2 linked regions of the Homo sapiens genome follow. The protein of the gene in region 1 purifies or fractionates together with the protein of each later gene. This does not show direct contact. Each region holds a gene or a part of one and is shown in the gene's direction. Other genes may lie near its edges. The genes, in order: AFG2A and ATAD3A.

Region 1 (16,078 bases):
AAAGAAACAAAAAAATCTACTCAAAAAACATAAAGCTGTCTAGGTTTGGAGTAAGACAATTCAGCTATATCTGCCAGGAAAGCTCCTTTTTTTCCAGATTCCAATGCAGTTTTTAACATTAACATACCCAAGTTTGTTTTCTATGAATTTCTGTGTTTTATGACATGAATAATAACATGGCTAGATTCTTATTTGGTAGATTAACCAACCCTGAAGGACTGCTTGGAGTGGCACAATCATGTTATCTGGCTGTCTTTCAGCCTCTGTTAAAGTCCATAATGAAATTTTATTTGACAAAATCACTTCTGAAACCCAGTGTGCTATTTAAAAAACCTTCATGGTTTACCCTTTTCTTTCCATACTACCAAAGTGGCTTAGATCACATTTTATCCATATATTGTATAAGTATTTATGCTATGTACATGGAAGATACATAGAATTAAGTATTACAATATTTTGTTTGACCATTGAGTCTAACTCCTAAATTTTATAAATGGGGAAACTTAGGTCCCCAGAGTCAGAAAGACAGTTAATGGCATGGCCAAATCCTAGGGACCCGGGTCTGCTGATTCCGTTTTGTCTCATTAACATCATTCACATGAGCCCAGGAAAGATTAAATAAATTCTGGTGATCTACTTCTTCTTTAAATGAAAAGAGAGATAATTAAAGGGATATACTTAGAAGACAGTAAAACCCTTTTATGGTATCTCTTTAGAAGTAACTGCTACATACCAAAGTATAGTTTTGTTTTAAACATAACAAAAGAAATTAATCAATTTATGTTACTTGTACATACAGTATTTCGGGCATATCATCTATCTGCTATATTGGAGAGAGTTATAATATCCACTCTGGGTTGAAGCCAACTTTACAAAGTAGAAGTGGCAAAGGGATTGGAACTCTGGTCAGTCTGGCTCCCAAGTCCATTTTGTTCATATCAGCTCCCTCTCATTGGGCATACTGTTGTCAGGCTAATTTGCATATTGTTATTAGATTAATTTTGTCCATATATCATCTTCATCATTTTGTCATCACAATCAAAATCTTTTAATAGTTACTGTTTCCATGTCAAGTCTAAACTCATCTGCCTGGTTCTCATGACTAGGCCCTACTTTTACCACTCAATAATGCCTCCTACTCTCTGGTCATAACCGTTACATATATATGTCCCAATTCAAATATAAAACTTATTGAGGGCTAGGTACAATACTACTTTAGGTGTTCTATAAATTTCTGTTGAGGACAAAAAGCTTAATTTGAATCAGAGATCCTGCCTTAATGAAAACTTCAAAGTTACTTGGAGCCATAAGAATAGTTTTAGATAGCATTTCCAAGAAATATGTGACACTGCTTTCAGCTATCATTACAAACATTAATTTAAACTTTAAGAACATATGTGGTGGGGAAAAATGTTTGACTATGTCCACTAATATTTGCTGAAGTCTCAGAAAGTATCAAAATCATTATTCTCTTTCACTTTTACTTCTGACTCCTGAGCATGAAAACATCTGATCCCTAATCACGGTACTTCTCTGGGAAATATTTGTTGCTTCTAGTCACCTAGACTCCTTATCTTGGTATCCAATCCTCTTCACATTGTTTCCAATCTAGCTCTCAAGTCAAATATCTTACCACTGTCCATATTCTGGGCCACACTGAACTTTTTACCATTATTTCTAAACTATGTCAGTCCCTTTCTGAGCTCTGTGCCTTTGTATAAGCAATTCGAATTTTATCAGTTTGTTTTTTATTTTTTTTCTTCTGCACCTGGAAAGCTCCTACTCATTCTTCAAGACCTAGTTTAAATTTCACCTCCTTTGAGAAGTCTTTGGGGACTTCTTCAGGCAAAGTTAATTGCTGTCATCTATTGTATGACTGTCTTTCCAAATAAATAGTAAGCTGCAGGGCATAAGGTATATCGTCTTACTGCTTTTTATATTCTCAGCACCTGGCACAGAGTAGAAACTCATTGAATGCTGAATGAATGGAAGAATATCTTGGTAATATATTAAAGCAGACTTGTCTTCCCAATTAAATACAGTCATTTATAATTTTCCTTTAGCCATAAAGTAATAGATAGTAACACTGAGTGTTACCTGGAAATTTTCAAGGTCTGTATAAGTAGTTTGGTTTAAATAAATATCTAAGGTGATCCATAACTGCTTAGAAATGATTTTTAAAATACCTTTCTATAACCCCTTAGGCATATTAAAATTTCTATATTTTATTCTTCTCTAGAAAGAAATAAACATTTAGGAAGCAATTTATAAAACAGAAGCAGCTTACTTTATTTCGATCTTGTACAACCAGTATTTTTCTAGTACTTTCATCAAATACAGCTCCTATTAGGGGAAAAAGAAAAGATAATTGAGAAATATTAATTTCATTCACCTTAATCTCCTCCCACACTCTCTATCTGTGGTGATAAAAATTCTACCCATACTTGAAGCCTTGGTTCAAATACAGGTTGAGTATTCCTTATCTAAAATGTTTCAGAGCAGAAGTGTTAGATTTTTCTGGATTTTGGAATATTTTCATATACATAATGAGGTATCCTGGGGATAGGACCCAAGTTTAAACATGAAATTCATTTATGTTTCATATACACCTTATACTCATAGCCTGAAGGCAATTTTATACAATATTTTAAATAATATTGTGCATGAAAACAGTTTTGACTGCATTTTGACTGTGACTTGTCACATGAGGTCAGGTATGGAATTTTCCACTAGTGGCATCATGCCAGTGCTCAAATACTTTTGGATTTTGCAGCATTTTGGATCTTAGATTTGTAGATTGGGGATGGTCAAGCTGTACCACCACCTCATCCATGAAGACACTAAGTGCCTGTCTTAGTCCATTTGGGCTGCTATAACAAAATAACCACAGACTGGATAGTTTATAAACAACAAACTTATTTCTCACAGTTCTAGAAGCTAGGAAGTCCAAGATCAAGGTGCTGGCAGATTCAGTGTCTAATAAGGGCTCATTCTTTACAGACGATGCCTTCTAGCCCTGTCCTCACATAGTGAAAGGGGCAAACAAGCTCCTGTAGGCCTCTTTCATAAGGACACTAATCCCATTCATGGGAGCTCTGCCCTCATGATCTAGTCACCTCCCAAAGGCCCCACCTCTTAATACCATCACATTGGGGATCAGGTTTCAACATATGAATTTTAGGGGGAACAAACATTCAGACAACAGATGTGCTTACAATATTTATTGAATAAATGAATTGACTTCTCATTTTTATTCCTTGAATCACTATGCATACAACACAGGCTGTGCCCCCTGATGATCCAAATCTCAAATATCTCAATATTCATTTCAAGACCTTTCTGAAGCCAATTAAATTTTCTTATTATGTATATACACAACTTTATAATCTACTAATATACTGCTTTGGAAGAGTTCTTTGTTTTATATATGTTTTAAGTTCTAGTTCATTTTTTTTTGTTTATTCATTCATCATACACATTGCATATTCTCTCTTTCTTTTTAAAAATATTTCCCTTTGGGCAATCTTGGGTCAAAAATACAAATGACGTATTAGTGATTTTTATTATGATCTTTTAGATGTTATGATTTAAACATTACTTGTATTTAAATAATGTGGGATGACATTTTTTAAAAGATACTTTCTACATATTTGTCCATGCTTTCAGTATTAACTGAGTTCCTCTATATAATGTACATAGATCCTGTGCATATTAATTGAGCTCCTACTATGTGCCAGGCACTTTTCTAGGTGCTACAGATACAGTGGTGAACAACACAAATGAAACTCCCTATCCTTATGGGGTTCACATTCTGGTATGTGTGTGGGGAGGCGCCAAAACAAACAAAAAATAAATTATATAGAATATTAGAAGGTGATAAATGCTATGTAGAATATAGAGAAGGAATAAATATGTGTAACATGGGGAAAAGTAATTGAAATGCAATTGAAATGAAAACACCACACTTGACTATTTTAAAGCAGGAAGGAAAATCACCAAGTGAGATATAATTAACATTAATGTTGGCTTCTATTAGAAAATGTAAGCTATAATTTAACTGGACTTTACAAGAGGTAGACTGCCAAAGAAATGCCAAGGAAACTTACTCTTAAATTTTAATAATTTGTGGTTACTCAAATTGAACTTGTCCCTAATGAATTCACTGTAAACATGAGCACAGTATCAGAGACAAAACCAGCACCACTAAAGCACAATTTGAGCGACCTCTGCTGGTCACAACATAAAAATTATTATTATGATTAGGCACTGTGCTTCAACGTACATTAGCTCAGGTATAAGTCACAATAATCCTGTGAGTGATATGAGTGTCTGGCTTCATATAGCTCTAACTGGTAGAACTGGGACTGATAGCCAGTCTGTCTGGATTCTAGGCAGGCACACTCTTCTCACTGTGCAATGCTGCCCCTCAACAATACTGAAACTTCTCTCTCAGAAGACTCACATTTCCATCCCATTCATTAAAAAAATATTGAATATCTACTTTATGTCACTCGCTGTCTTTAGCTTGAGGATATCGTGGTGACCAAGACAGATAAAATATCTGCCTTTATGGAGTTTATATTATTGTGGGGGAGATTAAGTGATACAATATAATTAATTTACATACATGATATAATAGAGTTTCAGACTGTGATAAATGCCATAAAGAAACATAGAGCTGGATAAAGGGACAAGGAATGATGGCACTAGTGTGCAGGGAGAAGTCACTTCTAACAGAAGGGTCAGGGGCTTTTCTGAGAAGGAGACACTTGAGCAGAAACTTCGGCTATGAAGAACTAGATAAAGAAAGTTCTGGAGAAGCATGCTGCAGGAAGAGGAGCCAGTAGATGTCAAGGCTCTGAGTCAGACACAAGCTTGCTAAGTTTGAAAAGCAAAAGAAAGCAATGGCTCCAGCTATTCCAGCCACATCTGCCTTCGGTAGTTTATAACAAATGCCAATTATTTTTCTTTCCACCTAAAAACTCTGCACCCCAGCCTGGGCAACATGGCGAAACCCTATCTTTGCAAAAAATACAACAATTAGCCTAGCATGGTGGCGCATGCCTGTAGTCCCAGCTACTTGGGAGGCTAAGGCAGGAGGATCACTTGAGCTAAAGAGGTGGAGGTCGGAATGAGCCCAGATCATGACACTGCATTCCAGCCTGGGTGACAAAGTGAGACCCTGCCTCAAAAAAAAAAAAAAAAAAAAAAAAAAAAACAACTCTGCACCTTTCCAGAACAATTTCTTACATTACCTCGTCCACACCCCCAACAGTGGCTTCAAATCCTAGTTAGTGTTCAAGATTGGTCAAGTTCTGCATCTCTTATTCTTTGAACTGCTCTGACACTCTAAACTATAATGTACAATATACAATATAGTACTTAGTTATCAACAGGCCCTTCATAGGATACTCTTTTTGCATATATTACCAATTCTGTAGTAATAACTGGGAACTCTTAAGAGTCTGTGCCCGTGAATGATAATTATTTGCATAACTTTCCATTGAAGTGTGAGGCTGTCACTAAATTATTGAGTAGAATCTTTTGAAATAGAGCTGAACGGAGAGTTTCTGAATGTCTACTTGCTACAGGGAAGTAAGACAGGGACAGAGAAGACATCATTAGGCATTCTTGAACAACTCCTTGAAAAGCCTTGAAAAGCAAACTACCTTAAAAACTCTTGTAAATTATATAAAGGCAAATAAAATTATTAATTAAATAACTAATATGCTTCATTGCTTTCATTTATTAAGGTCATAAGGATCCCTTACTATTATAGTTTTTCTAGAAATCTAAGAATTTTGGTCCTTAAAGGGTAGTACTGAGACCACCACCAGCAGCAGCAGCAGCAGCAAAAACAGAAACAGCCAGGAAGATCACCTGAATTTTCAGGTCCCACCATAGACCTACTGAATCAGAAACTCTGGGGATAGGGCCCAGCAATCTGTTTTAAGATTCCAGGTGATTTTGATGCAATCTACAATGTGAGAATCTGTGTCTTACTCTGAGGGAAGTCTTCTCTCAACTTTCCTATGTCTCTGAAGCTAATCAGCCACTTCAAAATTCTACTCTACACTTAAATTACACGATTTTAAACAACTGTTTGGCACAATAATGTAAATATTATTAAGAAGTAATTGTTCAAATCATTGAAAAATTGGTTTGCTTTACCTGAAATTCAACATAAAAATGATCATTTACTTTACAAATTTACATAATTAGTGCCAACATGTTTTACTCTGCAATAAATTTATTCCCTGATCCCAATTCAGTGCTACTATTTGAGTAGTGAAGTTTAATTATATGTGTAAAATATATTCAAGCATATCCTTTGGAAAACTAAACACTAAAGTTGTTCTCTGTGCGTCTGTCTACTGATTGAGGCAAACTTCATCTATTTAAAAGCACTATGTAATAGTCCTATTTAAAAGCACTATGTAATAGATACTGTAGTCCCCCTTGTCCAGTTTTGCTTTCTGTGATTTCAGTTATACAAGGTCAACCATAGTCTCGAAGTGTTACATCACTACTCTTGTGCTTCGGGGCATTAATAAGGAAAATAAGGGTTATTTGAATCCAAGTACTGTGATACTGGGACAGCTGATCTGATAACAGGGAAGGCTACTAAGTAACTAATGGATAGGTAGCCTATGGATCATGGATACACTGGATATGGGGAAGATTCACGGCCTGGTGGGACAGAGCAGGATGGTGAGAGATTTCATCACATTACTCAGAACAGCATGCAATTTAAAACTTAAGAGTTTTTTTCTGGAATTTTCCATTTAGGTCATAATGCCTGTCATTCACCTCACTTCACCTCATCGTGCAGGTGAATACAAAAGGGTGAATACAAAACAATATTTTGAGAGAGACCACATTCACATAACTTTTATTACACTATACTTTTATAACTGTTCTAATTTATTGTTAGTTACTGTTAATCTCTTACTGTGCCTAACTTATAAGTTAAACTTTATCATAAATATGTGTGATAGGAAAAAACATGGTATATATACATAGGGTTTGGTACTATCTGCGGTTACAGGTGCCCACTGGGGGTCTTGGAACACATCCTGTGCAGATAGGGTGGAACCACCGTAATCATTTAATCAAATAACTCATTCCACATGAATAAACTATTTGCTTAGCTGTAACAAGCAAGAAATTGGGTGAACGTCTAAAAAGTTAATTCTGCTCATCATGAGTTTGAAACTGACCTGCAACTCCTACTTGATGTGAAGCATATCCTGGTAATCTGCTGGGCCCTTCTCTCAGCCACAGAGTCAACGTTGATGAATCCGATTCTGCGTGGTGAAAGCAGAAGCCCAGGGAAGCAGCAGGGGCAATAAATCGGCTTTGGAGGATGGGAATGTGCAGCCATACAGCTGTTCTACCTTCTGATCGCCATTGCTGTACTGCAGCTAAATGCAGAAGAAAAAAGTCTAAATAATTTCCAAAGAGACGAGTGGAATAAATTAAAACTCACCTCAGGGTTTCGCCTCCTCCAGGAAACCATCTTTAAGCAAAAGAGGTCCCCAAATGTCTTGTTCACATCGCTGGCACTGGAAGTACCATGTTTTATAGTAACCACCTTGTTTATATGATTTTTCCATCAGACTGAATTCCTTCAGAATAAAGTCATTACACTGCTGACCTTTATATCCATACCACCAAAGACAATGCTTGGCACGTAACAGATGTTCTGTAGTTTTAGAGTGGACAAATAAAAGGATTTAAACCGAATCAAATACCATTTGAATGCTGTTCCTTTTAACATCCTTAGGTTTAATCTTAAAGACAATTATGGACTTCTATTTTTTTCTTCCTTTAGGAGTTCTGTTATAATGTTTTTAATGTATAAATTTCAAGGTAGTTAAACTTTGTTTTTAAATAATGTATGCTGGTTGTAGAAATTTTGAAAATAAAAAATATGAAGAAATCAAACTTCACATTTTACTAGCATATAGGAATAAAATTCTAATTTTTCCTTATTATAGATAATATCATGGTGAACATAATTATAGGTTTTCTATCTTTGCCTTCTTTAAATTCTCTTTACTACTTAAGATTGAGCCAGGGGAAAAAGATGCTAATATCTATTTGAAACTTACTAAGTTCCAAGCACTTTATATATATTATCTCATTAAGTGCACAACCATGAAAGGTATTACTACCTTAAGTTTATGGGTGAAGAAATAAATACTTCAGATTTAGAGTTTTTAGAAAAGCTTTTCAGATCACTTTCTTCATCCATCATCTCACTTAATCTTTATAATAACGCTATAAAGCGTGTGTGTGTGTCTGTCTTTGGGGGTTGATTATATATCAAATAGTTAATTAACTTTCCCTTCTCTTTTCCCTAGCTCTGCAGGAAGCTCCTCTCTTTAAGGACAATGTTCTCTACCTCTTTGAAAGTTGCTGTGCCTAGCACAGTGACAGGCACATGGGGCCTTTAATAAAGACTTCCTGATTTGAGTTAGCATGCAGTGGAATTATGGGATCAGGTCCTTCTCACCTTGCTCTCTTTGTCTGATGACATCTTTTAAAAATTGAGGTAAAGTACATAAAGTGAAATGTACAAATCTTAAGTGTACATTTCATGCGATTTGACATATGCATATGCCCGTAACACACTTTAACATTATAGAACATTTCTATCACTCCATACATTTCACATGTGCTCCTTCCCAGGCAATCCTTCCAATCAAATTAAAAGGCTACTTTCTAAAAGCAATGCTATTTGCTTGCTGTTTTATATCTACACTCTGTGTCTTGGAGAATCCACTCTCACTGCTTCAGCTGATACATACATGAGGATGGCTGCCCAGCCCTGACCTCACTGAACACTAAACTTTCTGTTCTCCAGTTGCTCCCAGACATTTCCTGTCCTGAAGGTTACCACTTCAGACTTCACAAAGTGTGTTCAAAACTGAATCTTTTGTTGTTGTTGTTGAGACGGAGTCTTGCTCTGTCACCAGGATGGAGTGCAATGGTGCAATCTCGGCTCACTGCAACCTCTGCTTCCTAGGTTCAAGCGATTCTCCTGTCTCAGCCTCCCAAGTAGCTGGAATTACAGGTGCGTGCCACCATGCCCAGCTAAGTTTTGTATTTTTAGTAAAGACGGGGTTTCATCATATTGGCCAGGATGGTCTTGATCTCTTGACCTCGTGATCTGCCCGCCTCGGCCTCCCAAAGTGCTGGGATTATAGGCGTGACCCACCGCGCCTGGCCAAAACTGAATCTTACACCCCAAACTAGCTTCATTTATAAGCTTATTTATTTCTGGCACCAATGCTTGAAACCTTAGAATCATTTTTAAATTGCTTTCTTCTTTTCCCTAATAAGCTTTATTGCTTTTTCTTCCCTCACCTCCCATTCCCATTGCTAATATCTATCCTTTAAAGTCCAGCTCATATTCCACATCTTTGACCAGTCTTTCCTAACCACTGCTCATGAGCTCACCATTATGAATTTAAAGACTACTATGTCTGTACAATTTATTAGAACTTATTACATATGACCTAATGATATCTCTTCCATTAGCTATTTTTTCCAATTCTATTTAATATTCCATGCATTTGCAATCCTCCAGGGTAACCCTACATTATGCACTGGGGCTCAATTTGTACTAATGAAATGACTGGCTTGCCTAAAGTCACATAGCTGGTGAGTGGCATAGCAGGGACCAGAACCAGTGCTATTTCATTACTGATGCAGATATGTTATGTGTGAAGCTAACAACATATTGCCTGTTTATCCCTCTAACTTCAGTTGTTGGTAACAAAACATCAATAGTTCATGTTCTAAAAGAATATGAATAGTTGACTTCTTATTCCACCAAGAATATGGACTTCTTAGTCCATAAAGACTAAGAATAGCGGACTTCATGTGTAAATAGTCTCTCTTTATAGGCACTACCATTCAGTTAGTTTTGTTCAATTATAACAACAGAACCAGCAGGAGTTCTTCAAGGTAGCATAGTGCAGTAAGAAAGGTGTAGAGCCAGGGCAAGTAAATTTTTCTCTCTGTGCCTCACTACTGTCATCTTTAAAATAGGAATAATAATGCTATCTACCTCAAAGGGTTGTTAGGAGGATTAATTACTATTTATAAAGATCCTAAAACATCTACCATTAAGTGCAACAAAATTTGTTTTATTGAAAAAATATAACAAGTATTTGGTACTTAAGTTTACAAATTAGTTTCATCTTTGATCAACGCATCTATCCAGTAATTAGAGCTGGCGTTATTCACAAAAAGCAAGCTAAGAAGCAAATATTTTTGGTGGCAATTTGCCTAATGCCTGGCTAAGCACATGGCAGAACCTGGTACTTAAACCCAGAATGTGCACCTCCAAATCGCACAGCTTTCTGCTTTGTCATGCTGACTGGGGTAGTGCTTTGATCACCTGTTTGGTCATTGATAAGTATCAGTGGGTACAACACCTGTGTCTACCCACACACTGGAAGATAAAACGATTGATTCTCCTATTAGTGACACTGTTGCAGTATAAGCGGGCTTGTCAGCAATTACTAGCAAGTAGGAGAGAAAATAATGTGAAGAGGTAAGAAGTCTGGGAATGAGGATGAGTAAACATTGAAATAACTAGCTCAATTATATTTACAGATATGCTTCTTGCCATATTGCTCAATAGGATAAAGATTATTTTGAGTTTCCAGTGTGAGAGATTTTTCCATAGTTGAATTTGCATGCTATGCCTTCAATTAGATTATAAAACCCTCAGAGGCCGTTTGAAAAACTGCTGCACCACTAAATCGACTTCTTCCAAAGTGAAGGCTCCTCCATCCAAGCTTTCTTATCATTGGGCTCAAGGTTGAAAGCCAGTAAAAAGTTTTCTTATTGAAGACTGAAACCACCCACCACCGTCCCTGGTTAATCATAAAAGAAGCGTTATTCTAAAAAACTCCAGTTCTCGCTGAGACAGCTGTTGACCCAATTTGTATACAAATGTGACACTCTGAACCTCTCTGGTTTAGTATTTGATAGCCCAACAGGGTGACTATATTCAATAAAGATTCAGGCTGGGTGCAGTGGCTCCTGCCTGTAATCCCAGCACTTTGAGGGGCCAAGGCGGGAGAATCAGTTGAGCCCGGGAGACTGAGACCAGCCTGGGCAACACAGTGAGACACCGTTTCTAGAAAAAATAGAAAAAAGCCAGATGCGCGCCTGTAGTCCTAGCTACCCAGGAGGCTGAGGTGGGAGGATTGCTTGAGCTCAGGGGTTGGAGGCTGCAGTGAACCCTGATCCTACCACTGCACTCTAGCCTGGGAGACAGAATGATACCCTCTCTCAAAAAAAAAAAAAAAAAAAAAAACAAACTGTACATTTAAAAATAACTAAGAGTAACTGGATTATGGTTGAATGCTTGTGGTGATGAGTATCTCATTTACCCTGATGTAATTATTACACATTTATACCTCTATCAAAATAGCTCATATACCCCATAAACATACACACCTACTATGGACCCACAAAAATTAAAAATAAAAAAGAAAAGCCTCTTTGGTCCACTCAGTCCACCACCCGTATTAGAATGTAAGAGTTTTTTTCCTTGGGAAAAGTGTCCGACAGAACCAAGGCTCGGTAAAGGATACTAATAATGTAATAATATAATATTAACAAACATCTACTGAGCTTTAAATACGTGGCAGGCACTGTGCTGTGCACTTTATGTGCATTATCCAAATTAACTCTCAGTAATTCCAGGAGTTCTTATCACCGGGGTCTGTGGAAGAGGAAATGGTGGTTTACGGCAATTTCCGAATGTCGCACAGTAGAAAGTGGACCAGCAACCAGGGTTGCAGATCCCAAAGTCCGGGATCTTCACCATTTCACCCAACCGCCTTAGAGACCTCCCAGCAAAAGGTCTAAGCACGAATGCTCCAGAAAACAGGTCCAGGTCACGCGTGCCTTCTCCCTTTCCCTCTGGGCTCGACAGTGGTGCACAGAGCGACTAGGGAGTGGGGGCCGCGGTTATTTCATTAGAAAAGCTCTGGAGCCCCGGGAGCCCTTCGTCCCAGGCGCACTTGCCCTGCAAGCCCTTCTGGAAGGCGGCAGCGTCCAGGCGGTCCAGCGCATCGAGCCGCGCCAGGCGCACCGAGATGCCCCCGAATCTGTCCAGCTCGCCCTGCAGATCGCACGCTCCAACTGGCGGATTCCGCACGTAACCCTGTGCGCCCGAGGCCCAGCGGTAACCCGCCGAAGGCCCGGGGCCGTAGGTTCGGGCAAGCATCGCGCGCCAGCGGCCCCAGCTCAGTGGCTGCCGCATCTCCACGCCGCTTAATTCGTCCGTTGCCCAAATGACCCCTCCGCGCTCCAGAGCGGAGATCGCGGCCGTACATTTTAGAAGAGTGCCATCAATACCCTCAGAGTTGAGCTGGGGTTACCACTCTGCAGAGCTATGCCAAGGAGACCGCGAAGTGGTCCACCAGCCCTTCTCAGCAATTTGCCCCGCTCCAGTTAAGCGGGGAAAACCTCCTCCCCCACCGCCACTCACTTATTTTGTTTGGTAGTTTAATTCAACAGACGTTGGTTTAGGGATGGGGAAGCCGGGAGGAGATGCAAAAACGTCCTGTTTTTCAGGAATTTACAATCTAAGTGGCAGTTCCGTTCCTGGAACCTATCTTCTTTCACAGATGCCGTTACAGCTGTTTCAAAGACTGCTGGTTTTGAAAACGCTCAGTCCCTCCCACCACGCTGTGCACTGCTGCGCTCCACTCAGGGGATTACGGCGCAGGGGCGGACCCTCGCTGACTTCTGCCCCGGAAGTTTTTCTCTCAGTTGAAGCGCGCACATTGAGTCGGCTTTTCTACTGCTTCGGCTAGGGTACCTTGTGACCATGTCTTCCAAGAAGAATAGAAAGCGGTTGAACCAAAGCGCGGAAAATGGTTCGTCCTTGCCCTCTGCTGCTTCCTCTTGTGCGGAGGCACGGGCTCCTTCTGCTGGATCAGACTTCGCGGCAACCTCCGGGACTCTGACGGTGACCAACTTATTAGAAAAGGGTAAAGAATTCCGGGTGGGAGACTAGAGGCCGAGGGGGCGCAACCTGAGGGGCGGGAGACTCAGTGATACTGACTTGGGGTGCAGAGACTTTTGAAAGTTGGGCGTGGCATGGGTCTGAGAGCGGCACAGAAGCGTGTAAGACTTCTGTATGTAAGAAGCATGCAAACGTAGCCGCGCCTGCACTGGAGAAGTTAGGCTGAAATGGTTTATCCGTGTCCAAGGTTTCTCTTTTGTAAATTATTTTGAATTTTTAAGTTGCACTTGAAACGCTTTGTCTCATTTAACATTAACGACACATTTAATTGCAAAATTGTTCATAACTAGCGAACATGGGATACTTATCCTAAAAAACTAAATAACCAATTCAGTAAAAATGTGGATCACTCTGCCTTTAGGAGTGATGATAGCATTTTCTTCCAGTACTACGCAGGTTATGATATTTAATAACTGCTAGTAACTGCACACTAGTGTTAGCAGTATATATAGCTCATCTAATTTCTACAGAAGCCGTGACCGATGGGTATAGTAATGACAGTTTTATAGAGGGAGGAAAGTTAACGTGATTCCATTCAGGCTACACAGGTGCTAAGTGGCAGAGCCGATATTTGAGTCCAGATGTGTTTGACTTAAAAGCCATTCCTAGATGACAGCTCCTTTGATTTGGGAGAACGTATTTATACTGAAAAGTCTTATAAATTGAATTAAAAATTGAAAATTTATATTTGATGTGTAATAGCTTTGAAAAATGGACCAGACTAGTGGCAAAAACTTTTATGTCTAATCAGACCTTAAAGACAATTTAGAGTTCACATGGTATTTTCACTCTGCCTTAGGTATCAGAGGACAACTTGTTCTGTCCTGAAGGTTCAACTTGTTTTTGAACTAGATCCTTCCCATTGACATGTAAACATGCTCATTTCTCTTCCATCTTAAATCAGAACAAAAGCTCCACATTTTCTTCCTGCAACCGTCTCTCTATCCATTGCCAAGCTTCTTAAATGGAGTGGTCTCTGCCGCCTCACCACTTACATACTCTCCCTAGCCTATTCCTCTTTGACTTCCACCCCATCATTCCATGGAAACTGTTCCTGGTGTGGTCTCCGAGCATCTCCGTGTTGATAAACCTTACGTGACCACAGCAACTTTTGGTATTGTTGACCATTCCCTCCTTCTCGAAACACTTAACTTCTTATGTGTTGTCAAACTTGCCTGGTTTTCTTCATCTTTGTTGATGTTTCATCATTTTTCTTTGCAGGCTCGTCCTCTTCCCTTGACCATTAAATGTTGAAGTTCGTCAATTCTTAGTCCAAAACCTTTTTTTTCCTCTCAATAAATCCTGTCTCCTTGGCAAGTTCATCCAGTGCCCAGAGTTTCCCATCTATAGTCTCTTCAGTGTCAGATTTATATTTGTAAATCTTTTGTTTTTGCGCCTTGATGTGGTTGCCTTTTAGCCAAATGCTTCTCAAGCTCTCTGTGGTGAAGACTTTAAAATTTATAATAGGTCACAGATCAGCACTTTTCTAAAATACAGTAAAAATGATTTTCTAGAAAAATAAGGAAAAATTTTTATTAAACAGATGTGAAATTACTCTGTAAATTTCAATAAAAGCTTCTATATACTTATTCTCCTGTTTTGTACTTGTCATGAAGCAGTAACAAATCGTTGTGGGTCATATTTTGAATAGCACTGTACAATAACTCTTCTCATGAGTGTCCCAAAGATACTTCAGGACTAACTTCATGAGCCCGTTATTTCCTCCAACAAAATAAACTTCAACTCTGTTCAGTTTTTCCCGCTGCAAAATTCAGAAACCTAAGAGTCATCCATGACTCTCCCCCCCATATCTCACATACCTAGTCCACCACTAAATCATGTTTATTACCTAAATATTTTACATATTCCTCTTCTGCATGCCATTCCCACTGTTTCTACCTTAATTTCAGACACCATCATCTCTCACCTGGACTGCTACAACAGCCTTTTGACTGATTTTCCAGCTTCCAATTTTGCCCCTTATTCCTTTTCCATTCTGCAGCCAGAATGATCTTGTAAGATGAAGATCTTGTCATGACATTGCTTTTCATCCCTTTCTGGGCTCCCACTGCTGTCAGAGTAATGACCAGCATCTTGATGCAGCCTATTGCACTATTGTCCTGGGTGGTCTTGACCTTCTTTACATGGCTTCCCTATGTCTCCACCACTCTGCCTATACTCTCCTGAGGATGCGCCATACCCCCTTCTGCCCAGGAACTTTGTACATGCTGTCCTCTTTGCTGAGAATTATCTTTTTCTTCTCCTCATTTAGTTAGTTCCTACTCTTCTTTCAGACCTGATCTTAACATCACTTCCTTTGAGAAACATTCTCTTATTTGAAATTAGGTCAGATCCCACATGGCTCTCCTGGCACTCTAAGTCATTTTTTCATTGTATTAATCTTAGTTTATTATTTTACAGCTATCCACTGATTGTTTAATAACTCACTCATCCTACAAGGCTATAAACTCTGTGAGACCAAGGACTTGTGAACAAAAGTGCCTAGCATAGTATCTTTCATATAGTAGGCACATAGTACATATTTGCTGAATGAATAAATGAAGGGTGGATGGTTGTTTGAAATTATCTTTACTATCTTGTTAGTTAATGTGATACTTAAGGTGCTCAATAAATGTGAAAGTAGTTAATGGGGAAATTAGATGTTGACATATTTTTAAAGTATTGGAGGAGTGAGGTGAGAAGGGAACTGTGTGGACAACTTGAGTAGACCTATATAGTGTAAGCAGAGAACACGTTGGTGATGTTTTGGAAAATGAGACCAGTGGCTGGGAATTTGAACATGATTACCATTGAAAGACAAGGTGGAGAATAAATCCTGGGACATGGAGAATGTGCTGGATAGGGTGGAAGGAGAAGAAGAAAACTAAAGTCTTGGGAAGGACTGAGAACACTTGTGTGGTAATTGTCAAGAGGGAAAGATAGTTCATTGAGGTTTAGGAAGAAAGAGGCAGGAACTGAATATTATGAGATCATCTAACAGCAGTATGCTTTACTGTT
Region 2 (15,454 bases), on another chromosome or scaffold:
CGGCTAAGTTTTTGTATTTTAGTAGAGACGGGGTTTCACCATGTTACCAAGGCTGGTTGCAAACTCCTGAGCTCAGGCGATCCACCCGCCTCAGCCTCCCAAAGTGCTGGGATTACAGGCGTGAGCCACCGCACCCGGCCTACACTGATAACTTATAGCAAACTTTACTTTTGTTGAAAACCTTGGGAGTTTGGGATTTTAATTATCCTTTGTGGCCGGGTGCGGTGGCTCACGCCTGTAATCCCAGCACTTTGGGAGGCCGAGGCGGGCAGATCACGAGGTCAGGAGATGGAGACCATCCTGGATAACACGGTGAAACCCCGTCTCTACTAAAAATACAAAAAAATAGCCGGGCGTGGTGGCGGGCACCTGTAGTCCCAGCTACTCAGGAGGCTGAGGCAGGAGAATGGCGTGAACCCAGGAGGCGGAGCTTGCAGTGAGTCGAGATTGCGCCACTGCCCTCCAGTCTCTGGGGGACAGAGCGAGACTCCGTCTCAAAAAAAAAAAAAAATTATCCTGTGCTATTAATAAGACTTCATTCAGTCTAATATATATATATATGTATAAATGTATATATAAATGTGTATATATATATAAATGTATCAGCCACTTCAGGCAGGGCGCAGTGGCTCATGCCTGTAATCCCAGCACTTTGGGAGGCCGAGGCGGGCGGATCACGAGGTCAGGAGATCGAGACCATCCTGGCTAACAGGGTGAAACCCCGTCTCTACTAAAAATACAAAAAAAAAATTAGCCGGGCGTGGTAGCAGGTGCCTGTAGTCCCAGCTACTTGGGAGGCTGAGGCAGGAGAATGGCATGAACCCGGGAGGCGGAGCTTACAGTGAGCCGAGATTGCGGCACTGCACTGCAGCCTGGGCGACAGAGTGAGACTCCTCTCAAAAGCCACTCCAAAGGCATACTTAGAATTGGTATAGATGGTTCCTTCCTGGTTCTGTAAGTACTTGAAGGCTTGGCTGAGTGCAAACAGCTCACATGCTTGAGCAGACCAATTATTAGGAAACTTTATTAACTCTATTTTTTTATTTTTTGAGATGGAGTCTTACTCTGTCGCCCAGGCTGGAGTGCAATGGCGTGATCTCGGCTCAGTGCAACCTCCACCTCCTGAGTTTAAGCGATTCTCCTGCCTCAGCGTCCTGAGTAGTAATTACAGATACTCGCCACTACGCCCAGCTAATTTTTGTATTTTTTTTTTTTGAGACGGAGTCTCGCTCTGTCACCGAGGCTGGAGTGCAATGGCACGATCTCGGCTCACTGCAAGCTCTGCCTCCCGGGTTCACGCCATTCTCCTGCCTCAGCCTCCTGAGTAGCTGGGACTACAGGCGCCTGCCACCACGCCCAGCTAATTTTTTTATATTTTTAGTAGAGACGGGGTTTCACCGTGTTATCCAGGATGGTCTCGATCTCCTGACTTCGTGATCCGCCCGCCTCGGCCTCCCAAAGTGCTGGAATTACAGGCGTGAGCCACCGTGCCCGGCCTAATTTTTGTATTTTTAGTAGAGGCAGGGTTTCACCATGTTGACCAGGCTGCTCCTGAACTCCTGACCTCAGATGATGCACCTGCCTCAGCCTCCCAGAGTGCAGGGATTACAGGTGTGAGCCACAGAGCCTGGCCTCTATTTCCACAAGAGTTTTTCCTGTTAGTTACTCATTGTCTTTTTCCTTGAATCACCTGGAAGTAACTATCTTCAAATAAGTGTCATCCCGTAATGCACTACGGCAGTCCGTGGGTTACTACATTAAGGATAGTTGTCAGTGGCCTCCATGCCTTTGGGTAAGTTTTTTTTTGTTTTTGTTTTGTTTTGTTTTGTTTGTTTTTTTTGAGATGGAGTCTCACTCGTCGCCGAGGCTGGAGTATAGTGTCACTGTGTTGGCTCACCGCAACCTCCATCTCCTGGGTTCAAGCAATTCTCCTGGCTCAGCCTCCCGTGTAGCTAGGATTACAGGCGTCCACCACCATGCCCAGCTAGTTTTTATGTTTTTAGTAGAGATGGGATTTCACCATGTTGGCCAGGCTGGTCTTGAACTCCTGACCTCAGGTGATCCGCCTGCCTCGGTCTCCCAAAGTGCTGGGATTATAGGCATGAGCCACCGCTGGCCTCTAGTATAGGTTTTAAATTTACTCTGGCTTTTTTTTTCTCTCTCTTTTTTTTTTTGGAGATAGAGTCTCGCTCTGTCGCCCAGGCTGGAGTGCAGTGGCATAACCTCGGCTCACTACAACCTCCGCCTCCCGGGTTCACGCCATTCTCCTGCTTCAGCCTCCTTAGTAGCTGGGACTACAGGCGCCCACCACCGCGCCTGGCTAATTTTTTGTATTTTTAGTAGGGACGGGGTTTCACCATGTTAGCCAGGATGATCTCCTGACCTCGTGATCCACCCGTCTCGGCCTCCCAAAGTGCTGGGATTACAGGCATGAGCCACCGTGCCCAGCATTTTTTTTTTTTTTTTTTTTTTGAGACAGAGTCATGCTCTGTCGCTGAGGCTGGAGTCCAGTGGCACGATCTTGTCTCACTGCAACCTCCGCCTCCCGGGTTCAAGTGATTCTCCAGCCTCAGCCTCCCAAGTAGCTGGGACTACAGGCACAGGCCGACATGCCCGGCTAATTTTTTGTATTTTAGTAGAGACCGGGTTTCACCATGTTGCCAAGGCTGGTCGCGAACTCCTGAGCTCAGGCGATCCACCCGCCTCGGCCTCCCAAAGTGCTGGGATTACAGGCATGAGCCACCGCACCCGGCCTACACTGATAACTTATAGCAAACTTTACTTTTGTTGAAAACCTTGCGAGTTTGGGATTTTCATTATCCTTTGCTATTAATAAGACTTCATTCAGTCTAATATATATATATATAAATGTATAAGCCACATCAGGCCGGGCACAGTGGCTCATGCCTGTAATCCCAGCACTTTGGGAGGCCGAGGCAGGTGAATCACGAGGTCAGGAGATCGAGACCATCCTGGCTAACAGGGTGAAACCCTGTCTCTACTAAAAATACAAAAAGTAGCTGGGCGTGGTGGCGGGCACCTGTAGTCCCAGCTACTCCAGAGGCTGAGGCAGGAGAAATGGCACGAACCCGAGAGGTGGAGCTTGCAATGAGCCGAGATAGCGCCACTGCACTCCAGCCTGGGCGACAGAGCGAGATTCCGTCTCAAAAAAAAAAAAAAAAGTAAAAGCATATGTATCATGATAAAATGGACACTTTACCCATCGCCTGACTTTGTGTTGAATTGGGCAAGAGCCTCCTCCCGTCCACGTGGGATGGCCTTCCTGATGTGGCTCTCCAAGACCATCCCTGGAGGGCATAAAACCTCACAAATGCATCAGGCCGTGTGCTGGGGATGGGGCATCGTCACGCCAGGTCTGACTAGGAAGGAGGATGGGGAGGCAGGGCTGGGGGCTTTGAGGTCGAGGCGTGGCCGTGGATTCCAGAAAGCCCCTTGGCTGGTGTGGTGCCTGCCCAGCGGCATCCGTGTATCCTAACACCCGCCCTCTGTGCCCCTGTGCCTGCAGGCCACATCAAAGGACGCCCTGAATGTGGCACAGATGCAGGAGCAGACGCTGCAGTTGGAGCAACAGTCCAAGCTCAAAGTGAGTGGGGCCGGTGTGGGTGGGGAGGCCGGGGCGCACATGGGGTTCGGGCATGGAGATTGGTAGGGCTACTGCCGGTGGGTAGGGCTGGTGGCATGTACATGGGCAGCAGTGGGGTGCAGGGCCGAGCTTGGGCGCCTCATTTCACAGAAGGAAACAAGGGGAGGTGAGAGACAGTGCCGCAGAGCCTCCCGAGAGGGAGGGCCAGTGTTGGTGAGGGCGTCTGGTTGTCCGGAGGATGGGGATCTTCTTGACATTCTCACCTCATTTCTTTTCACTCAGCAGAATTTTTTTTGCATTGCATTGCATTGCATTGCATTTTAATTATTTTATGTATTTATTTTGAAACGGAATCTTGCTCTGTTGCCCGGGCTTGAGTGTCGTGGTGCGTTCTCGGCTCACTGCAATCTCTGCCTTCCAGGTTCAAGTGATTCTCCTGCCTCAGCCTCCCAAGTAGCTGGGATTACAGGCACCGACCACCACACCCGGCTAATTTTTGGATTTTTAGTAGAGACGGGTTCACCATGTTGGCCAGGCTGGTCTTGAACTCCTGACCTCAAGGGATCTACCTGCCTCGGCCTCCCAAAATGTTGAGATTACAGGCGTGAGCCACAGTGCCTGGTCCCTCACTTTCAGTCCTGAGTTCACAGGCGGGGTTCACATGTTGCCTGTTGTGGGCATTGTAGCTTAAAAATTTAATTGGCAAGGCCAGGTGCGGTGGCTCACACCTGTAATCTCAGCTCTTTGGGAGGCCGAGGTGGGCGAATCATCTGAGGTTGGGAGTTCGAGACCAGCCTGACCCAACATGGAGAAACCCCATCTCTACTAAAAATACAAAATTAGCCGGGCGTGGTGGCGGGCGCCTGTAATCCCAGCTACTCAGGAGGCTGAGGCAGGAGAATCACTTGAACCTGGGAGGCGGAGGTTGCGGTGAGCCGAGACCACGTCATTGCACTGAAGCCTCAGCAACAAGAGGGAAACTCTGTCTCAAAAACAAAAAAAAAAAGAGAGAACAGGAGTGTGGTCGACTGCTGGGCCTGCCATAACCACTGGGGCGTGTGTGCCCACAGCTCTGAAGACTACAGGCCCAAGGTCAGGGTGCCAGCTCAGTCCCTCCCTGTGGAGTGTTCTTTGCTGGGTCCTCATGTGGCGGAGAGAGTGACTGAGCTCTCACTCTGGTGTCCCTTACAAGGATGCTCATCCTGCACTGCTCACAGTGGTGGTGGTAAGCCACCGCGCCCAGTGCCAACTTTGTCCTTCAACAGTTTGTGTGTGTGTGTGTGTGTGTGCGCGCCAGGCACAGTTGTAGGATCCAGCTCCACAGGTTCGGTGGGTTTTCTCTTTGTGTGCAGAGACAAGAGAGTGTAGAAATAAAGACACAAGACAGAGATAAAAGACAGCTGGGCCCGGGGAACCACTGCCACCTAGACGTGGAGACCGGTAGTGGCCCCGAGTGCCAGGCTGCGCTGTTATTTATTGGATACAAGACAAAGGGGCAGGATAAGGAGTGTGAGCCATCTCCAGTGATAGGTAAGGTCACGTGGGTCACGTGTCCACTGGACGGGGGCCCTTCCCTGCCTGGCAGCCGAGGCAGAGAGAGGGAGGGAGGGAGAGAGAGAGACAGCTTACGCCATTATTTCTGCTTATCAGAGACTTTTAGTACTTTCACTAATTTTGCTACTGTTATCTAAAAGGCAAAGCCAGGTGTACAGGATGGAACGTGAAGGCGGACTAGGAGTGTGACCGCTGAAGCACAGCATCACAGGGAGACGGTTAGGCCTTCGGATAACTGTGGGCGGGCCTGACCCTCCACAAGAGGTGGAGGAGTAGAGTCTTCTCTAAACTCCCCCGGGGAAAGGGAGACTCCCCTTCCCAGTCTGCTAAGTAGCGGGTGTTTTCCCTTGACACTGACGCTACCGCTAGACCACGGTCTGCTTAGGTCACGGGTGCCTTCCCAGGCGCTGGCGTTACTGCTAGACCAAGGAGCCCTCTGGTGGCCCTGTCCGGGCGTAACGGAAGGCTCGCACTCTTGTCTTCCGGTCGCTTCTCACTATGTCCCTTCAGCTCCTATCTCGGTATGGCCTGGTTTTTCCTAGATTATGATTATAGAGCGAGGATTATTATAATATTGGAATAAAGAGCAATTGCTACAAACTAATGATGAATGATATTCATATATAATCATATCTAAGATCTATATCTGGTATAACTATTCCTATTTTATATATTTTATTACACTGGAACAGCTCGTGCCCTCGGTCTCTTGCCTCAGCACCTGGTTGGCTTGCCACCCACACACAGTGGCTCATGGCTGTAATCCCAGCACTTTGGGATGCCAAGGTGGGTGGAGCACCTGAGGTCAGGAGTTCGACACCAGCCTGGCCTAAATGGTGAAACGCTGTCTCTACTAAAAATACAAAAATCAGCCAGGCATGGTGGTGTGTGCCTGTAATCCTACCTACCTGGGAGGCTGAGAGGCAGGAGAATCACTTGAACCCAGGAGGTGGAGGTTGCAGTGATCTGAGATCGTGTCACTGTCTTGCAGCCTGGGTGACAGAGTGAGACTCCCTCGCAAAAAAATAAAATAAGTTTTTTTTTTCCCTTTGGCAATTCAAGATCCCTAGAGGTTCCATATCAACGTATTAATGCTTTTTCTATTTTTGTAAAAAATAATTCGGGTTTTACAGGGATTGCATCCAGTCTCTATATTGCCTTGACGTCTCTTAGCAATGTTGTCTGGTTTTCTTTTTTTTTTTTTCTTGAGATGGAGTCTCACTCTGTCACCCAGGCTGGAGTGCAGTCGTCGGCCAGGATGGTCCCAAACTCATGACGTCAGGTGATCTGTCTGCCTTGGCTCCCAAAGTGCTGGGATTACCGGCGTGGGCCACGGCGCCCGGCCAGTTTTCATTGTACAAGTCTTTCACCTTCTTGGTTAAGTGAATTTCCAAGTATTTTATTCTTTCAGATGCTATTGTAAATGGAAATGGTTTCATAATTTCCCTTTCAGATTATTCATTGTTAGTATGTAGAATTGCAGCTGTTTCTGCTGTTGATTTTGTTTCCTGTAACTTTGCTGATGTCACGGGGTTGTTTTTTCCAATATGGATTCTAGGATTTTCTTTTTTCTTTTTTTTTTTTTTTTTTGATATGGAGTCTCGCTCCGTCACCCAGGCTGGAGTGCAGTGGCACAATCTCGGCTCACTGCAAGCTCCGCCTCTTGGGTTCACGCCATTCTCCTGCCTCAGCCTCCTGAGTAGCTGGGAATACAGGCGCCTGCCACCATGCCCAGCTAATTTTTTGTATTTTTAGTAGAGATGAGGTTTCACTATATTAGCCAGGATGGTCTCGATCCCCTGACTTCGTGATCTGCCCGCTTCAGCCTCCCAAAGTGCTGGGATTACAGGCGTGAGCCACCGCCCGCGCCCAGCAGGATTCTAGGATTTTCTACATATAAGATTATATCATCTGAGAACAGGTGATTTTACCTCTCCCTTTTCAGTTTGGATGACTTCTTTTTCTTCTCTAATGGCCCTGGCCACAACTTCCAGTGGTATGTGGAATAGAAGCAGTAAAGCATTCTTGCCTGGTTCCTTACTCAGAGGAAAAGCTTCCAGTTTTTCACCACTGAGTATGTCACCTGTGGGCTTGTGATATATGGCCTTCATTATGTTTAGGGCGTGTGTTTCAATTCCTGGCTTGTTGAGTGTTTTTCTCATAAAAGGGTGTTGAATTTGGTCAAATGCTTTTCCTGCGTCAGTTGAGAGGGTCATGTGGTTTCCTTCTTCCACTCTGCTAATATTGATTGCTTTTTGTATGTTGAACATTTCGTATGTGGAACATGATTTTCGTATGAACTATCCTTGCATTCCAGGAATAAATCCTGCTTGGTCAGGGTGTATAATTTTTTTATTATACTGCTGAATTCACTTTGCTGGCATTTTGTTGAGGACTTTCCCAGTGATGCTCATCAAGGATATTGGCCTGTCATTTTTCTTGTGGCATCTTCATCTGGGTTTGATATCAGGGTACTGCTGGCTTCCTAGGATGAGTGAGGAAATGTTCTTCAATTTGTCCAGGAGTTTGAGGAGTGCTCTGATTCTTAATGTTTTGTGAATTCACATGTGAAGAAATCAGGTCCAGGTCTTCTCTTTCAACTTTTACAGCTTGGAGATTTTAGGTTCCCAGAAAAATTGCAAGGGTAGCACAGAGAGCTCCCGGGCCTGGGGCCTCGCCACGTGGTGAACGTCATGTGTCACTGTTGGCCCCACCCGCGACTGGGTCTTGCCCCAGAATCCCACCCAGGAGGCCACGTGACATTTAGCTGTCACTTCTGGTGGGCTCCTGCCAGGTCCCGTGCTTCCCAGAGGGGTGGCCCCGTGAGCATCTGCGTAGCCCCTTTCCTCTGCTGGGCCCTGGGTGAGGTGCAGCCACTCGGGTGGACCCTGAGGGTCCCTGCACCTGTTTGCCCTCTCTTGGGTGGGCTCAAGACCAAAAATGATGTTGAGCAGTCCTGGGCCCCTGAGCCACAGTGGCGGTACGGCTCCAGTCAGTGTCTCCTGCGCTCCTGGGCCCCTGACCCACAGTGGTGGTCCAGCTCCGGTCAGTGTCTCCCCACACAGTGGCTCTTGGCGAGGGATGGGCGCTGGCAGAGGGGACGGGCACCACGTGGTCATCCCCATGGCAGGTTCTATCGTGGCGACGGTGTTGTGGGAGGATGGTGTGCTGCTGCCCCTGCACCCCGTGAGATGAATCCTGCCTCTGGGAGGCATAGCTGGGATGGGGCTAGGGACCCGCTCAGCTGTCCGGGAAGGGTCCCCTGCCCTGTGCTTCCTCCAGGCGTCCTGGTGCCCTCCTGAGCACGGCGCCCAGTGGGGGTCCCCACACCCTGACCCTGACCCACGGGTGACTCCCTTTGGGGACTCCATGCCCTTTTCTGGCATTAGGATGGAGAGTGACCTGTCTGGCAGAAAGGCTGGACCTGAGGCTGCCTGAAGCGACACCGAGGGCCACAGCCCCAGCAGCTCCAGCCTTCACATGCTAGATGCCAAGCCCTGTGCCCAGGAGGACAGGAAGGTGGGGCAGGGGTGGCCTTGGTGCCACCAGCCACGTGCCTCAAGGTGGGCAGTGGCTGCCTCTGCCCTGGAGGCCTGTGAGGGTCAGGGTCTGAGGGTCTGAGGTGCACTATGACCCGGGGGCACTGCCTGGCCACGGCTGAGACACGCAGAGGGTCTGCAGTTCCCACCTGCCTCTCGGAAGCTGCCCTGGGTCGGCCGTCAGTGAGGCTCCGCCTTGGGCTTTCTATTATTAGAAAGTCATTGAGCAACAGCAGTGCTGAGGACGCAGGCAGGGCTGTGGGCACTGCAGGGGCTGCCCCCGGTGTCCACACACGTGCTGGGCTCTGCCGAGGTGCGGGAAGCCTGTGTTTCACGCTCAGGCCATCCTGGAGCCCCTGGTTTGGTCCCTCCCCACCTCGGGGCCCTGGCGTGCATTTGGGGTGGGGGGTTCCCATGGCGGCCTCCCTCAGCTCCCTCTCTCCCCACTAGGCCACGGCGTATGCCTCCGAGGACGGGGTCCTGACCGAGGCCATGATGGACACCCGCGTGCAAGATGCTGTCCAGCAGCACCAGCAGATGATGCGCTGGCTGAAGAGGGGGAGGCCTGGGCCCGAGGACGAGCAACCCTCATCCTGAGTCCATGGGGAGACCACACCTCACGGAGCCTGGCCGCGGACCCCTCCCACCCCTGCCTTTGCGGCCCCGCACATTTAGGAAATACTCCCCGTAATAAAGTCCCACGGGGGCCGCACCGCTGTGTCTATTGGCTGGGGCGGGGTTTGGGGCCCCCTAACGTCCCCCTGGGGTCAAAGGTGACAGAAAAGGCAGAAGCTGGGGCTTTCTGGAGGATTTAACCACAGAGGGGTGGGCTGCACAGGAGGTGCCTGCCACGGCAGGGCCGGGTGCCCGTGCCCCATCCTGAGGCCGTGCATACGCGGGTGCCCTTCGCCTCCCTCCCCTCCGCCAGAGCTGCCTGTGGCCAGACACACGGTGGAGGGAAGTGCACGCGAAACAGACACAGCGGCTTCAAATAGATGCCGCCCCTGCCCGCGCTTTGCAGCTAGTCCCTGCAAACCTTGATGATGGGGCTGGGCGCGGTGGCTCACGCCTGGAATCTCAGTGAGGCCAAGGAGAGTGGATCACCTGAGGTCAGGAGTTCCAGACCAGCCTGGCCAACATGGTGAAACCCCATCTCTCCTAAAAAAAAAAAAAAAAAAATTAGCCGGCCGTGGTGGCAAGTGCCTGAAATCCCAGGTACTCAGGAGGCTGAGGCAGGAGAATCACTTGAGCCTGGGAAGTGGAGGTTGCACTGAGCTGAGACCATGGAATTGCACTGCAGCATGGGCAACAAGAGTCAAACTCCCTCTAAAAAAAAAAAAAAAAAAAAAAAGGGCCAGGTGGCACATGCCGGTGGTCCCAGCTTCTTGGCTTGGAGGCTGAGGTAGGAGGATCGCCTGAGCATGGGAGGCAGAGGTTGCAGTGAGCTGAGATCGCACCATTGCACTCCAGCCTGGGTGACAGAGTGAGACCCTCTCAATAAATAAATAACCAAAACCTTGATTACAGCCATGGGGTGGGGGTGGGGGGACGTCTGGCTATTGCTGGGGAAGTCATTTGGTTTTTCTCCTCCTCTCCTATTTTTTTGGTACAGACGGGGTCTCTCTTTGTTGCCCAGGCTGGTCTCCAACTCCTGGGCTCAAGCAATCCTCCTGCCTCGGCCTCCCAAACTGGCGGGGTTACAGGCGTGAGCCACCGCGCCTGCCCTGTTTTCTTTTTCTTTTTTTTTTCTTTTCTTTTTTTTTTGGCGATGGAGTCGTGCTCGCCCAGGGTGGAGTGCAGTGGCCTGATCTCGGCTCACTTCAACCTCCACCTCCAGGGTTCAAGCAGTTTTCCCGCCTAAGCCTCCGGAGTAGCTGGGATTACAGGCGCACGCCACCATGCCCAGGTTAATTTTTGTATTTTTGACAGGGGTTTCACCATGTTGGCCCGGCTGGTCTCAAACTCCTGTTTTCAGGTGATCTGCCCACCTCGGCCTCCCAAAGTGCTGGGATTACGGGTGTGAGCCACCGCGCCTGGCCGGCATTTTCTGGCTTTTTTTTTTTTTTTTGACAGAGTCTGACTCAGTCGCCCAGACTGGAGTGCAGTGACGAGATCTCGGCAGCTCACTGTGTTATATGTAAATTTTCTGTGCCGCCAAAGAAGTAGAACTCGAATATAAATTTTTCTCAGCTAGATAATTTACTTCTATAGAAGGGGACATCTCATAGATGGAGCAATGGCGAGCGCTTGGACAAGGGAGGGGAAGGGGTTCTTATTCCTGACGCGGGTAGCCCCTACTGCTGTGTGGTTCCCCTATTGGCTAGGGTTAGAATGCACAGTCTAAACTAGTGCCCATTGGCTATTTTAAAGGGAGCAGGAGTATGGGCCAGAGTGGCGGGGTGAGTGGTTTGGCGGGAAAAATGGTTATGGGACAGGTAACTAAAGGTGACTCAGGTCAAAGCAGGAGACCGGGATTAGTTAGGACGGAGCAGGTGACCAGGGCAACAGATGTCAACTACTGACTAGAACTGGTGGAAAAGGTTGTTTACTGAAACTGCGAGGAAGGTAGACTTTAAAATGCAGGACAAAGACTGAACATACTGATATACTGATTCTTTGAAGGGAAGTTTAGAACTCATTGTATCTAACATTATTCAGGCTTAAAACAGTTTCCAATCCAGTGGGAAAAGTCACTCCATATATTCCGTGAAGTCAACCAGTTCCATCAAGGAGAAAGTCAGGGCCGCTGGGAGCGCGTGGACCGTGGGCTCCGGGGCGGCGCCTGCCCGGGCACCCCGGCCCCGTCCACGCCCCGCAAGAGGAGCTCGCTGGCCCCGCCACGCGGGAAGGGGTCGCCCCGGGGTCTTGGGCGGGAGGGCCGTGCGGGCTGCGGAGACACCGAGGAGGGGAGGCGCCTCTCCTGAGCTCTTGGCGCAGCGACCCCAGGGCGCCGACTCATCGCGGAAGGGCTCGGCTTGCCCGGGCGCCGGTGCCGCCTCGGGTGAGGTTCCCGCGAGACTCTTCTCTGCGTCCTGGACTCACCGCAGGGCGCCCCGCCGCACGGATCGAGAACCTTGGGGCTCCCTGGAAACTTGCCACCCGCTGCCGCCAAGGCCGGAACTCCTCGGAGCCCCTAGCAACGGAGCCCCTAGCAACGGAGCCCACGCGGATGCGGCGCGGGGCTGACGCTGCCTTGGGTTCGCCTACGTCCCTCGGGAATTTTGTCCCGGCGTGGCTCCCGTAGCCAGATGCTTCGCCGCTCCCGCCCCGCTGGCTCCCAAAGCCTGTTCGGCAGTCGCGGCGCCGTCGCTATGGCGTCACTGTCCTCGGGGCCAATCCAAGGGCTGCGCGCGTGTCCCTTACGCGCTTCTATCGCCGGGAGGAAGGGGTGTGTGTGGCGCCTGCGCAGTGGCGGTGACCACCGGCTCGCGGCGCGTGGAGGCTGCTCCCAGCCGCGCGCGAGTCAGACTCGGGTGGGGGTCCCGGCGGCGGTAGCGGCGGCGGCGGTGCGAGCATGTCGTGGCTCTTCGGCATTAACAAGGGCCCCAAGGGTGAAGGCGCGGGGCCGCCGCCGCCTTTGCCGCCCGCGCAGCCCGGGGCCGAGGGCGGCGGGGACCGCGGGTTGGGAGACCGGCCGGCGCCCAAGGACAAATGGAGCAACTTCGACCCCACCGGCCTGGAGCGCGCCGCCAAGGCGGCGCGCGAGCTGGAGCACTCGCGTGAGTGCGGCGGGGCGGGGCGGCGCGGGCGGGCGGGCGGGACGGGCCGGGGAAGCGGGAGCCCTGGCCCTTGCCGCTCCTCGCCGCTGTCGGCAGCCACTTCCCGGGCGAGACTGCGCCCCCGGAGCACCCCCGGCCGGAGCCGTGTCGCGTGCCGGGAGGATCGGACTCTTTCCGTCACCCGTTTGCACCTCTGCAGCTGTCAGGAGCGGGTCAGGTGCGGAAAGCGGTGCGGAGGTGGCGCTCATAGGTTACAGGGGTCAGGGTCTGGGGCTGGCCGTGGTCTTCAGTTACCGCCGAGCGTGCGGGATCCTTCTGCGCTTGCCGCCTCCACGTGGCACAGGCCAAGGCGTGGCCAGATGGGTAGATGGGTTTGTTGGGTGGTTGCTAGCAGTTTCCACGTAACAAGGGAAGCGTATTTGAGAGTTACTTGATTCTAACGAGACTAGCAGATTTGCACTTCTTGTTGGAAGACGTTAGCATTTGCACGGCGAGGTCTGTGAAGCCACAGGCCAGGCCGTGCTGCTCAGCTTGAGTAAACCCCTGACCCAAGGCCCTCAGGGTGTGAGCACTCACCATGTTGTTCAGGCTGGTCTTGAATTCTGGCCTCAGGTGATTCGCCCACCTCGGCCTCCCAAAGCGCTGGGATGACAGGCGTGAGCCGCTGCTCATGGCCTTCCTCGGTAATTTTAACCATCAGGTTAGGATGGGAATCAAGGGCTGGACTTCAGGGCACCTCGGAGGACAGCGGATGTTGGTGACTGACTTTCTTGCTGCAGGCTTATTTGGAGGGTTCCTTTGTGTCCTAGTTCCTGGGGGTTTTCACCCGCTAACTTCACTTAGAGATTGAAACTTCTCCCACTTCCAGAAGCTGAATCGTAGTGATCAGCCTGCGGCCCCCTGCAGTGGTACAGGCCTGGTTGAGCAGCCTCAGGCCGCCTCCCCATAGTGCAGACCTGTGCCTCTGAGTTGCTCCAGTCCTGGCGGCCCCGGAGCTCCTGACCCGCAGTCCGCTCTGCCGGCGTTGCCAGTGCCTTGGTCTGCCCTCTCTGTGGTGGAGCGGGGCCCGGGGCAGGGTCTCCAGGTGCACCGTGGGGAGCCCTCCATCAGGCTTTTGTTTCCTGTGGATTGTGTTCCAGGTGTGGGCTCTTTCATTCTGATCCCTTCCCTCCTTCCTGGCCTCACTGCTGGCAGGTGAGAGAGGTTTCTCCAGAGTTGACTGCCCCCTTTCCCCGGGTGCCCCCTGCCCTGCCCCTCTGCCTGGTAGCCCCTCTGCAAGCCCGGCCCCTCCCGACGCTCCTGGCTTCCTCCGTGCCCCTTTCCTGGCAGCGGGTCGCCGAGATTCGGCCGGAGCCCATTGCTTTGTCCTTGCTGCTCTCCAGGCAAACGGGCGGCTCCTCCTCACCGACTGCCTCCTCTGTCCCTTGAGGCTATAGCCCCATGCCGCCTGGTTCCCAGAGTGCCCTGACCCCTCCTCCGGCCTGTCCTTGGAAGTCACAGCAGTACATTATCCCAGAACTGTCTGTGAGCACCAGCGCTCGCCCTGCACTCCACAGAGGGGGTGCCTGGAGGAGAGCCTCGTGCCCTGTGGGTGTGAATTCACGCGCTGGGACGCACGTCCCTGGCACAGGGTCACACCAAAGTGGTGAATGATTGTTCTCACTCTAATAACCGAGAGGCCACACGGGCACCTGACCTGCTCTTTCCCCTCTCCTCCTCCCCAGAGTCACTGGGGGTAGGAACTGTCAATGAGCCATTTTCAGGGGAGGGAGTGGCCTCAGCTTAATCCAGCCAAAGGTCCCCTCGGGAGGAAACAGGCAGAGCTCCTCACCGTGACACCCACGTTCCTGTCACTGCTCTGTGGCAGGACCCTGGGTGACTGACACACCCTCAGTCCCCTCGGGGTCAGAGTGAGAGTGGTTGAGAGCCCGGGGTCGCTTCAGCCCTTGGCTTCCCGAGCTTAGCAGCCAAACCCGTTGACCTGGCACTGTCTTCCCTGAGAGGCAGGTCCCGGTCTCATCTGTGCTCTGTTCACTGGGGCCCCCGAGGTTAGCTACCAAGGCGCTTCCTGAAATCTGACACTGATGCCCGTCAGCCCAGTTCGTGCCTAACCACAGGCCCAAGCAGACCCACCCCAACACCAAAGCGTCGCTGCCTCTGTCTAAATGCAACGAGTGCTCCCCACGGCACTTCCCCCTGCGTCAGTCACCTCCAAAAATTACACCTGAGCTGAGAACAGACGCTGGGCTCTAGTTAGTGACGTGTTTGCTGCAGTTGACTCTGAAGGCTTAAAAAAGTGAGACGGGCTGCGGGAGGAAGAGAGACGGGAACAACGCACCAACCCAGGAGCATCGGGGGTCCCTGCCTACTTTACGTGTCTTTCTGTGTTAGCAGATTTATATGTTTATTTATTTATTTGAGATGGAGTTGCCGTCCGTCGCCCAGGCTGGAGTGCAGTGGTGCAACCTCGGTTCATCGCAACATCCACCTCCTGGGTTCAAGCAGTTCTCCAGCCTTGGCCTCCCAAGTAGCTGAGATCACAGGCGTGCACCACTGTGCCCTGCTCTTTTTTTGTCTTTTTAGTGGAGACAGGGTTTCGCCATGTTGGCCCGGATGGAGATTTTTCTTTTTTAAGTCTCTCTCTGTCTAGCTGGAGTGCAGCGGTGCGATCTGGGTTCACTGCAGCCTCTGTCTCCGGGGTTCAAGCCATCCTCCCACCTCAGCCTCAGAGTAGCTGGGATTACAGGCGTCCGCCACTGCGCCCAGCTAATTTTTGTATATTTAGTAGAGATGGGGTTTCACCACATTGGTCAGGCCGGTCTCTAACTCCTGGACTCAAGTGATCCACCCGTCTCAGCCTCTCAAAGTGCTGGGAGTACAGTAGTGAGCCACCGCGCCCAGCCAAAAGATTTTTATGGTAAAGTTTTATGATGGGAAAACTGTCATCCCAGAAAATTTTGAGACCTGATGCTGAGGCCTCAGCAGCTCAGAGAATACGTACTTCTGTCCCACGACACCCAAACATCGACCTGTGTCAG

The links.
Region 2: the proteins of AFG2A (region 1) and ATAD3A purify together in Homo sapiens (affinity purification with mass spectrometry; 2 studies listed by BioGRID and IntAct, with this or other methods). This does not show direct contact.

The regions. Positions count from the first base shown.
Region 1 is NC_000004.12:122,910,281-122,926,358, forward strand, and holds the start of AFG2A (ATPase family gene 2 protein homolog A), read left to right. Parts: upstream 1-12,797; 5' UTR 12,798-12,862; coding exon 12,863-13,025; intron 13,026-16,078. Other genes in the region: NUDT6 (nucleoside diphosphate-linked moiety X motif 6), read right to left, coding at 2,288-2,343, 7,221-7,424, 12,055-12,292. UniProt on the Homo sapiens protein: ATP-dependent chaperone part of the 55LCC heterohexameric ATPase complex which is chromatin-associated and promotes replisome proteostasis to maintain replication fork progression and genome stability.
Region 2 is NC_000001.11:1,500,058-1,515,511, forward strand, and holds the start of ATAD3A (ATPase family AAA domain-containing protein 3A), read left to right. Parts: upstream 1-12,104; 5' UTR 12,105-12,211; coding exon 12,212-12,416; intron 12,417-12,472; exon of another isoform or gene 12,473-12,633; intron 12,634-15,454. UniProt on the Homo sapiens protein: Essential for mitochondrial network organization, mitochondrial metabolism and cell growth at organism and cellular level. May play an important role in mitochondrial protein synthesis. May also participate in mitochondrial DNA replication.